Linked DNA regions of Homo sapiens. The protein of the gene in region 2 purifies or fractionates together with the protein of the main gene of each other region. This does not show direct contact. Each region holds a gene or a part of one and is shown on either strand. Other genes may lie near its edges.

Evidence for each region.
Region 1: the proteins of FLYWCH2 (region 2) and RTF2 fractionate together in Homo sapiens (co-fractionation; one large-scale study listed by BioGRID). This does not show direct contact.
Region 3: the proteins of FLYWCH2 (region 2) and CCM2 purify together in Homo sapiens (co-immunoprecipitation; one large-scale study listed by IntAct). This does not show direct contact.

Annotation. Positions count from the first base shown.
Region 1 is NC_000020.11:56,478,562-56,482,213, reverse strand, and holds part of RTF2 (replication termination factor 2), read right to left. Parts: intron 1-3,652. UniProt on the Homo sapiens protein: Replication termination factor which is a component of the elongating replisome. Required for ATR pathway signaling upon DNA damage and has a positive activity during DNA replication.
Region 2 is NC_000016.10:2,886,143-2,889,794, reverse strand, and holds part of FLYWCH2 (FLYWCH family member 2), read right to left. Parts: intron 1-3,652.
Region 3 is NC_000007.14:45,059,161-45,062,812, forward strand, and holds part of CCM2 (cerebral cavernous malformations 2 protein), read left to right. Parts: intron 1-3,652. UniProt on the Homo sapiens protein: Component of the CCM signaling pathway which is a crucial regulator of heart and vessel formation and integrity. May act through the stabilization of endothelial cell junctions. May function as a scaffold protein for MAP2K3-MAP3K3 signaling.

The DNA.
Region 1 (3,652 bases), on a different chromosome or scaffold from region 2:
GGTCTTGGAACCAATCTCCCACACATATCAAGGGATGACCATACACAAACTAATCCAATCATCAATTTCAAGTGTGGAGGCTCTTATCAATAACAGATGGACAAAGTCAAAATAAGCAAAGCTCAATTCACTGGGTAAGAGAAAAAGGAGAAGAGACTGACCAGCAAACCAAAGGAGAAACAACAGGGGAAGCCACAATCAGAGCAACAGGCTGCAGGGGACTCCTACTCGAGACCCCATTGTGGAGCTCGTTTCTGCTAAGTTCCTCTTCTGGGGTGAGCTAGTTTTCTTAAAAGCAAGTGGGAAGCCAAACACGAAAGGTTACATATTGTATGATTCTATGCATATGAAATATCCAGAAGAGGTAAATCCATTGAGACAGAAACAGACTGGCAATGGGGAGTACCTATGTAATGGGCAGAGGATTTTCCTTTTGGGGTGATAAAAATGTTCTGGAACCAGATAGAGGTGGTGACCGTACAACACTGTGAATGTACTAAATGCCACTGAAACATACACTTTAAAATGGCCAATTTTATGTGACTTTCACCTGAAATACAAACATATACATACGTGTGTGTATATGTGTGTGTATATATATATGCAAACACACACACATACACACACATATACAGAAGTGGGACATGGTTAGGTAAATGAGTCTGGTTCCCCAGAATATGTCTTACTTGACCCCAATGGTGGTTTAAAAGAGAGCCCTAAGCGGTTTAAATTCAGATTATTTGAAGAAGAGTGTAATATTTAAAAGCAAAAGGTCCTTGGACCCTAAACTGTACTTCTCTCCAAATCCATGAAGCCCCTCGTTGTTCCATTTCAGAACAGGACAGTTAGTTCCCCTCGCACAGTCTGCCACACGCAACACGGCCTGGCACACTGAGAGGGTGTCCATGTACACCTGTTAAATAAACAGACGCCAATGTGCCAGAATGCTCAGGATTAAATACTGCTGTTTAAAGTTCAATGAAACCATTTTTACTTACTCGAGATGCTTTGCCCCACCCCTTTCCTGAATGAAAGTAATAAAAAATGCTACCTTTCAGTATGTTGTGTGTTTAACAGAAGATTCCAGAGGGCAGTCTGGACTACCAGCTATTAAGGATATAGGCATACCTTGTTTTATTGCGCTTTGCAGATATTGTGATTATTTTAGACTGAAGGTTCACGGCAATCCTGCATCTGGCAGGTGTGTCAGCATCTTCCCAGCAGCATGTGCTCACGTCATGTCTCTGTGTCACATTTTGGTAATTCTCAAATATTTCAAATGATTTCATGATTACTACATCTGTTACGGTGATCTGTGCTCAGTGACGTTTGATGTTACTTTTGTAATTGTTTTGGGGTGCCAGGAACAACACTCTTATAAGATGGTAAACTCAATTAATAAATGTGTGTGTTTTGACTGCTCCATGAACTGGCCATTCCCCCATCTCTCTCCTTCTCAGTTCTCCCTATTCTCTGTGACACAACAATATTGAAATTAGGCCAATTGAGAACCCTACAATGGCCTTTAAGTGTCCAAGTAAAAGAAGAATTGCATGTCTCTCACTTTAAATCAAAAGCTAGAAATGATTAAGCTTAGGGAGGAAGGCAGGCCCAAAGCCAAAACAGGCCAAAATCCAGCCTCTCAAATCAAACACTTAGCCAGGCTGTGGATGCAAAGGAAAAGTTCTTGAAGGAAATTAAAAGTGCCACTCTATAAACAGATGAATGGTAAGAAAGTGAAACAACCGTATTGCTGATATGAAGAAAGTTTTAGTGGCCTGGACAGAAGATCAAACTAGCCACAGTGACAGATCCTTAAGCCAAAGCCTAACCCAGAGCAAGGCCCTAACTCTCTTCAATTCTATGAAGGCTGACAGAGGCAAGAAAGCTGCAGAGGAAGAGGTGGAAACTGGAAGAAGTTGGTTCATGAGGTTTAGGGAAAGAAGGCGTCTCCATAACATAAAAGTGCAAGGTGAAGCAGCAAGTGCTGATGGAGAAGCTGCATTAAGTTCTCCAGAAAATCTAGCTAAAATCATTAATAAAGATGGGTACACTAGACAACAGATTTTTAGTGTAGATAAAATAGCCCTGTGTTGAAAGAAGATGCTATCCAGGACTTCTACTGCTAAAAAGGAGAAGTAATGCCTGGATTCAAAGCATCAGGACAGGCCGACTCTCACTAAGGTCTAACGTGCCTGGTGACTTTCAGTTGGGCCAATGTTCATTTACCGTTTGGAAACCCTAGGGTTCTTAAGAATGATGGTAAGTCTACTCTGCCTGTACTCTCGAAATGGAAGAACCAAGCCTGAATGAGAGCACATCTGTCTATAACATGGCTTACGGAATATTTTAAGCCCAGCGTTGAGACTTACTGCTCAAAAAAAAAAAAAAAAAAGATTCCTTTCAAAATATCACCGCTCATTGATAATGCACCTAGGTCACGCAAGAGCTCTGATGGAGATGTACAAGATTAAAGTTGTTTTCATGGCTGCTAACACAACAACCATTCTGCAGCCCATGGATCAAGGTGGAACTTTGACTTTAAAGTCTTATTTAAAAATACATTTCATAAGGCTATAGCTGCCATAGGCTTCCTCTGCCATTCCTCTGATGGATCTGGGCAAAGTAAATTGAAAACCTTCTGGAAAGAATTCACCATTCTAGATGTCATTAAGAACATCTGTGATTTGGCCCGCTGTGGTGGCTCACACCTGTAATCCCAGCACTTTGGGAGGCTGAGGCAGGCAGATCATCTGAGGTCAGGAGTTTGAGACCAGCCCGGCCAATATGGTAAACCCTGTCTCTACTAAAAATATAAACATTAGCTGGGCACGGTGGCGGGCACCTGTAATCCCAGCTACTCGGGACGCTGAGGCAGCAGAATTACTTGAACCCAGGAGGTGGGGGTTGCAGTGAGCCGAGATTGTGCCACTGCACTCCAGACGGGGCAACAGAGCTGGACTCCGTCTCAAAAAAACAAAAAAACAAAAAACAAACAAAAAAAATCTGTGATTCATGAGAGGAGGGCAGAATATCAACATTAATAGGAGTTTGGAAGAAGCTGATTCCACCCCTCATGGACGACTTGGAGGGGTTCAATGCTTTAGTGGAGGAAGTAACGCAAATGTGGTAGAATGGCAAGAGAATGAGAAAAGTGGAGCCTGAAGATGACTGAATTACTGCAATCTCACGATAAAACCCAAATGGATGAAGAGTTGCTTCTTATGGATGAGCAAAGAAAGTGGTTTCTTGAGACAGAATCTGCCCATGGTGAAGATGCTGTGAATATTGTTATGATAGATTTGAAATATTACATAAGCTTAATTGATAAAGCAGTTGCAGGGTTTAAGACAACTGATTCCAATTTTGAAAGAAGGTCTACTGTGGGTAAAATGCTATTAAACAGCATCACATGCTACATACAGAGAAATCTTTCATGAAAGAGTCAATCAATGCAGCAAATTCTATTGCTGTCTTACTGTAATACACTGCTACAGCCACCCGAACCTTCAGCAACCACCATCCTGATCAGTTAGCAGCCATCGACATCAAGGCAACATCAAGGCTCCACCAGCAAAAAGATGATGACTCGCTGAAGGTTCAGGTGATTGCTAGCATTCTTTAGCAATAATTTTTAATTAAGATAGGTACT
Region 2 (3,652 bases):
TGTACCAACAATAATTTATTATATGAGATGTTAACATGAGGGGAAGCTGGGGGTGGGGAAGATCTATAGGGACTCTGTACTGCCTCTCGGACTTTTCTATAAAGCTAAAATAATTCCAAAATAAAAAGTTTTTTTTAAAGGTAAGTAGCTAGCTGCATTAATATGACCCAAAACATTAACTATTTTATCACAGAAAACCCAGCATAAGCAACTTTGCTCTTTTTCAGGTTGTTTTTTTTTTTTAATATAGTCTTTCCTAGTGCTTTTTCTTTAAAAGTAAAGGTTGGCCGGGCGCAGTGGCTCACGCCTCTAATCCCAGCACTTTGGGAGGCTGAGGCGGGTGGATCACAGGGTCAGGAGATTGAGACCATCCTGGCTAACACGGTGAAATGCCATCTCTACTAAAAATACAAAAAATTAGCCGGGCATGGTGGCAGGCGCCTGTAGTCCCAGCTACTCGGGAGGCTGAGGCAGGAGAATGGCGTGAACCTGGGAGGCAGAGCTTGCAGTGAGCCAAGATCGGGCCACTGTATTCCAAGCTGTGTGACAGAGCGAGACTCCGTCTCAAAAAAAAAAAAAAAAAAAGTAAAGGTTAGAAGAACAGATTGAAAAATGACTGTATACACATGTATACACACACACAAACAACAACAACAACAACAAAAAAACACCAAATTTTGAGCAAAATGGCCCTGACAAAGGTTGCCTGGTAGGAACTGTGTTTTATGAATCATTTTTATGCGTTCTGGAAAAACACAAGTGATACTTTTCTGAATATCAAATTTCAGTTAATCATAGTGTTTAATACCTCATTTTCAAAAATGACAAATATTTCTTTTCTACAATTAGTCCCATGCACACCTCCTAAGTAGTGCAATAATAAATTTGCTTCCATGACTTTTTAACTTAAAAAGTTACTTCTGCTCTTAAAAACCATGATATTTGCTCTAGCTCATGAAGCTGCAGAGAAATAATTCCACAGAATCTCAGAGAAGTGAAGGTTATGAAGATCTCCTCATACTCTCCATTTGGAGGACAAGGTAGCCAAGAAGAAGCCAGTCCTGGGACTTCCTCCAGGATAAGAGGCTTAGCTGGTCAAGCTGGTCAGCCCACAGGACTGGAGCACCTACTGGGCTTCAGGTTCCCCAAGAAGATCATGACATTGTTGAAAGAAATTAAAGAAGCCCTAAACAAATGGAAAGACATCCCATGTTCATGGATTGGAAGACTTGATATTGTTAAGATGACAACACTTCTGACATTGATCTATAGATTCTTAATTCCAGCTGGCTTTTTTTTTTTTTTTTTTTGGAGAAACTGACAAGCTGGTCCTAAAATTCATATGAAAATTCAAGGAACCCAGAATAGCAAAAACAATCTTGAAAAAAAAAAAACTTGCAGGACTGACACATCTCTATCTCAAAATATATTATCACAAAGCTACAGTAATCAATACAATGTGGTACTGGCATAAAGACCGACACAGGCCGGGCACAGTGGCTCATGCCTGTAATCCCAGCACTTTGGGAGGCCAAGGTGGGTGGATTGCCTGAACTCAGGAGTTTGAGACCAGCATAAGCAACATGGTGAAACCCCGTCTCTACTAAAAATACAAAAAATTAGCCGAGTGTGGCGGCATGCAACTATAGTCACAGCTACTCGGAAGGCTGAGGCAGGAGAATTGCTAGAACCCGGGAGGCGGAGGTTGCAGTGAGCCGAGATCACGCCACTACACTCCAGCCTGGGCAACAGAGCGAGACTCCACCTCTTAAAAAACAAACAAACAAACAAACAAAACACAGACACAGAGATCAACAGAATAGAACTGAGAGTCCAGAAATACACTCTTATATATATGGTGAACTGATTTTCAGCAAAGGTGGCAAGACAGTTCTGTGGAGGGAAAATAGTCTTAACGACAAATGTTGGGCCAGGCGTGGTGGCTCATGCTTGTAATTCCAGTACTTTGGGAGGGTGATGTAGGAGGATCGCTTGAACCCAGGAGTTCCAGACCAGCCTAGGCAACATAGTGAGATCTCATCTCTAAAAAAAATATTATTAACCAGGGTGGTGGGGCACATATGTAGTTCCAGCAACTTGGGAGGCTGAGGTGGGAGCGTTGCTTGAGCCTGGGAGGTCAAGGCTGCAGTAAGCTGTGATTGTGCTGCTGTACCTCAGCCTGGGTGACAGAGCAAGACTCTGTCTCAAAAAATAATAATAATAATAATAAAAACAAACATTAAATGCTAGGACCACTGAATATCCAATACAAAAGAATGAAGTTGTATGCTTTCCTCACAGCATATACAAAAATTAACTCTAAATAAATTATATGGCTAGGCATGGTGGCTCATGCCTATAAACCTAGCACTTTGGGAGGCTGAGGTGGGCAGATCTCTTCAGCTCGGGAGTTCAGGTCTAGCCTGGGCAACATGGCGAGACCTCATCTCTACTAAAAATACAAAAAAAAAAAAAAAAAAAGAAAGCCGGGCATGGTGGTGTGCACCCGTGGTCCCAGCTACTTGGGAAGCTGAGGTGGAAGGATTGCTTAAGCCAGTGGGGCGGAGGTTGCAGTGAGCCGAGATTGCACCACTGCACTCCAGCTTGGGTAACAGAGTGAGATCCTGTCTCAAAACAACAAAAAAACAAAAAATTATAGTTTATTACAAGAGCTACAGTAATAAAACTTTTTTTTAAAAGAAAAACTAAATTCTCATAACCTTAGATTAGGCAAAGCTTTCTTCAATATAATGAAAGGCACAAACAACCAATGAAGAAATAAACTGGACTTCAACTAAGTTTAAGAGTTTTGTGTTTTAGCCATAAAACTTTTGAAAGTTAAGAGATAACCCATAGAATGGGAAAAAATGTTTGCAAATCATATATCTGATAAGGGACTTGTATCTGGAATTTATAAAGAACTATTACAACTCAGTAATAAACAAGCAAACAAACAAACAATTTAAAAATGGGCGGCTGGGCATGGTGGCTCACACCTGTAATCCCAGCACTTTGGGAGGCCGAGGCAGGTGGATCATCTGAGGTCGGGAGTTCGAGACCAGCCTGACCAACATGGAGAAACCCTGTCTCTACTAAAAATACAAAATTAGCCAAGCTTGGTGGCACATGCCTGTAATCCCAGCTACTCAGGAGGCTGAGACAGGAGAATTGCTTGAACCCAGGAGGCGGAGGTTGCGGTAAGCTGAGATTGCACCAGTGCACTCCAGCCGGGACAACAAGAGCAAAATCCGCCTCAAAAAAAAAAAAAAAAAAAAAAAGGACAAAGGGGCAGGGCGTGGTGGCTCATGCCTGTAATCCCAGCACTTAGGGAGGCTGAGGCAGGAGGATCACCTGAGGTCAGGAGTTCGAGATCAGCCTAGACAACATAGTGAAACCCTGTCTCTACTAAAAATACAAAAATTATTTTCTTTTTTGGATTGGTGGCATGGTGGCACATGCCTGTAATCCCAGCTACTCAGGAGGCTGCGCAGCATGAGAATTGCTTGAACCCGGGAGGTGGAGATTTCAGTGAGCCGAGGTGGCGCCACTGCACTACACTGCACTGCAGCCTGGGCATCAAAGTGGTACTCCGTCTAAAAAAAAAAAATAATAACAATAATAATAATAATGGGCAAAGGCTCCAAACAGGCTT
Region 3 (3,652 bases), on a different chromosome or scaffold from region 2:
ATGAGTCACTGCCCCCGCTACGATTGATATTTGAACATTGAATTAGCCTTGCACACCTGGGATAAATCCTGCCTGGTCGTGGTGTATAATTATTAATACATTATTGGATTCAATTTGCTGATTTTTTGTTTAAAAGTTTTGGCCAGGCATGGTGGCTCATGCCTGTAATCCCAGCACTTTGGGAGGCCAAGGCAGGAGGATCACTTGAGCCTAGGAGTTTGAGACTAGCCTAGGCAATGTGGCGAAACCCTGTCTGTTAAAAAAAAAAAAAAGAAAGAAAGAAAGAAAAAACAAAAAATACAGGCTGGGTGCGGTGGCTCATGCCTGTATTCCCAGCACTTTTGAAGGCCGAGGCGGGCGGATTGATTGAGCTCAGGAGTTCGAGACCAGCCTGGGCAACATGGCAAAACCCCGTCTGTCTCTACAAAAAATACAAAAATTAGCTGGGCCTGGTGGCATGTGCGTGTAGTCTCATCTACTAGTGGGAGGATCGCTTCAGCCTGGGAGGTTGAGGCTGCAGTGAGCTGTGATTGTGCCACTGCACTCCAGCCTGGGCAACAGAGCAAGACCCTGTCTCAAAAATGTGTATGTGTGTATATATATATATTTATTTTAGTGGTTGCCTTAGGGTTTGCAATATACATTCACAACTAATCAAAATCCACTTTCAAATAATGCTGTGCTGCTTCACAGGTAGTGCAAATACCTTGTAACCAAGTATTCCCAGTTCACTCCTCCCACTGCTTATAACATTGCTGTCATTTATTTCATTTATCCTTAGGCTACAGTCACCCAATACACAAATTTTATTTTGAACAAATTGTTAATGTGTTAGAGCAATTAAAATAAGAAAAATAAAAGATTAATTTTACCTACATTTATTTCTTCTCTGATGCTTTTCCCCTTCTTTACATAGATCAGAGTTTCTGACCAAATCATTTTCATTCTCTCTGAAGAAGTTCTTTTAACTTTTCTTGAAATGTTAAATCCCTGAGTTTTTGTTTTTCTGATAAAAATCTTTATTTCTCTTTCACTTTTGAAGGATAATTTCACTGGATACAGAATCAAATAGTTCCCTCCTCTCTCTTCTTGCTTGGATGGTTCCTGAAGAGAAATCCAGTGTCATTCTTGTTCTTGCCATTTTATAGGTAGGATGTTTTTTTCCTGTGGAAAAAATTCCCAGATTTCTGCAAAGAGAGAATCTTCCTTTCTAATTTTCTTTTTGTCTTTGATTTCTGCAGTTTGATGTGATTTGCCTCAGTGTAAATTACCTGCTTTTTACCGTTTCATGTTCTCTGACCTTATTGGATCTGTGGATGGGTGTCTGACATTAGTTTGGGGAACTTCTCAGCTCTCATTACTCCAAATAGTTATTGTGTTCTTTTCTTTCTCTTGATATCCTCATTGCACATATGTTACACTTTTTGTAACTGTCCCACAGTTCTTGCATATTCTGTTTTCTTTCTTTCGTTCTTTTTTCCCTTTGCTTTTCATGTTTGGAAGTTTCTGTTGACGTATTCTTAAGCTCAGAGAGTCTCTCCTTGGCTGTGTCCAGCCTCTTGAGCTTGTTGAAGGCAGTCCCCATTGCTGTTACAGGACTTTTGCTTTCTGGCATTTCCTACTGATTGTTGCTTAGGGTTTCCATCTCTGCTTATGCTGCCTATCTGTTCTTACATGATGTCTACTTTTTCCGTTAGAGCCATTACCATATTAATCGTAGTTGTTTTAAATTCCCAATCTGGTAGTTCCAAAATCTCCACTATGTCTGAGTCTGGTTCTGATATGAGGAACTTAGGCGTCAGGTTAATAGGCCTTAGTGTGAGGTACGTTTGGCTGGCTGGGAGTTGGGCTGTGTTTACTGTTTGCTGCCCTTGTGATGCTGGGGGATAAAAATCTCCTGTGTATCCTTGTTTTTGTCTTCCATTGTTTTTGGGTTTTCTTCAAGATTCCTTCTTAAATAGAGTCTGAGGCCTGCAGTTCTTATAGGTGTGCATCCCTGTTATTACACAGGGGTCCTGTTGATGTGGCTTTCAGGGGAGAGGAAGTGTTCTGTAGTCCTGGGATTAGGTCTCAGTGTTTTAGTGAACCTGTGTCCCTGGGCCGTGGCCTTCACATGTGCTTCTCAGTTTTGTTTTTTTCCTCCCCCTTAGGAGAGACATAAACGATAGAGGAGGCAGGAATTGGGTGTTTCCTTACCCCTAGGTGGTTAGGCTCTGGTAAAATAGTTTTCCTTGAGGAAAGCCCTTTGTTAAGGATAACAGAATGCTCTGGTCATGCCTTTTTCTTTCTTTCTTTCTTTTTTTTTTTTTTTTTTTGAGATGACCTCTGAGCCCTTTATATGTTGGTTGGGAAACTGGAGTGCAGTGGCACCATCATGACTCACTGCAGCCTCAACCTCCTGGGCTCAAATGATCCTCCCATCTCAGCCTCCTGAGTAGCTGGCACCACAGGCACACTGCCGTGCCCAACTATTTTGTTGTTGTTGTTGCTGTTGTTGTTCTTGTTGTAGAGATAGGGTCTCACCATGTTTCCCAGGCTGGTCTCAAACTCCTGGCCTCAAGCAAACCTGCCGCCTTGGCCATCCAAAGTCCTGGGATTATGGGCATGAGCCACCACACCTGGCCTGGTTATACTTTTAAATGATGTATTCTTCCCTCCTCCTACCAGAGTATGAGGAGATGTTTCTCCAGTCTCACCCTGAGAGCCTGGTGGGGCTCATGGAGGTAAAACTCAGACTGGTATGGGGACCTCCCCAGTGACTATTCCCCTGGAGTTTTTGTCTCCTACTGGTCCATGCTCAGTCTCTGCCATTTGTCAGTTCCCCTTTCCTCTCTGCTGGTGCTGGCTCTAGGGTTTCTGCCCCGCAATGAGCTGTGATTCTTAGCATTGCATATCTGTCTCTCCATCTTTGGGGTTATTGTTTTTTCATGTGACCTCAATTATCTGATGGATCTGAGAACAGTCATTGATTTTAAGTTTGCCAGCTTTCTTGTTGTGAGGATGGGAGTGATGACTTCTGAGCCTTTACAAGCTGGACAGGAAATTGGAAAGTCCCATTTCATTCTTTTTTAATAGAGAACTTAACTGTGTGAGGTAATGAACAACTGAGAAATGTTGAGTGCAAGAAGCCTGTTCTTGGGAAGAATCAGCAACCCATTTTAAAAAACAGAAACATTGAAAATGTTATGGTGGTTGGTAAGATGCAGGCAGGAGCACAGCAGGTACAGTGCTGCTGCCCACAGCCTTCTACACCTGAGGCCCTGCATTATGGAGGTTTGCTAAGCCAAGTGCCTCATGGCCATGTGTGACCAAAAAAACCTTTTTACTAAATGTTTTGTGCTGCTATAACAGATACCACAGACTGGGAAATTTATAATGAATAGATATTTCTAGGCTGTGCATGGTGCCTCACACCTGTAATCCCAGCACTTTGGGAAGCTGCGGTGAGCAGATTGCTTAAGTCCAAGAGTTCGAGACCAGCCTGGGCTACATGGCAAAACCCTGTCTCTACAAAAATTAGCCAGGCGTGGTGACACACACCTGTAGTACCAGCTACTCAGGAGGCTAAGGTGGGACAATTGCTTTGAGCCTGGGAGGCAGAGGTTGCAGTGAGCCAAGATCACGCCTCTGCACCCCAGCCTGTGTGATAGAG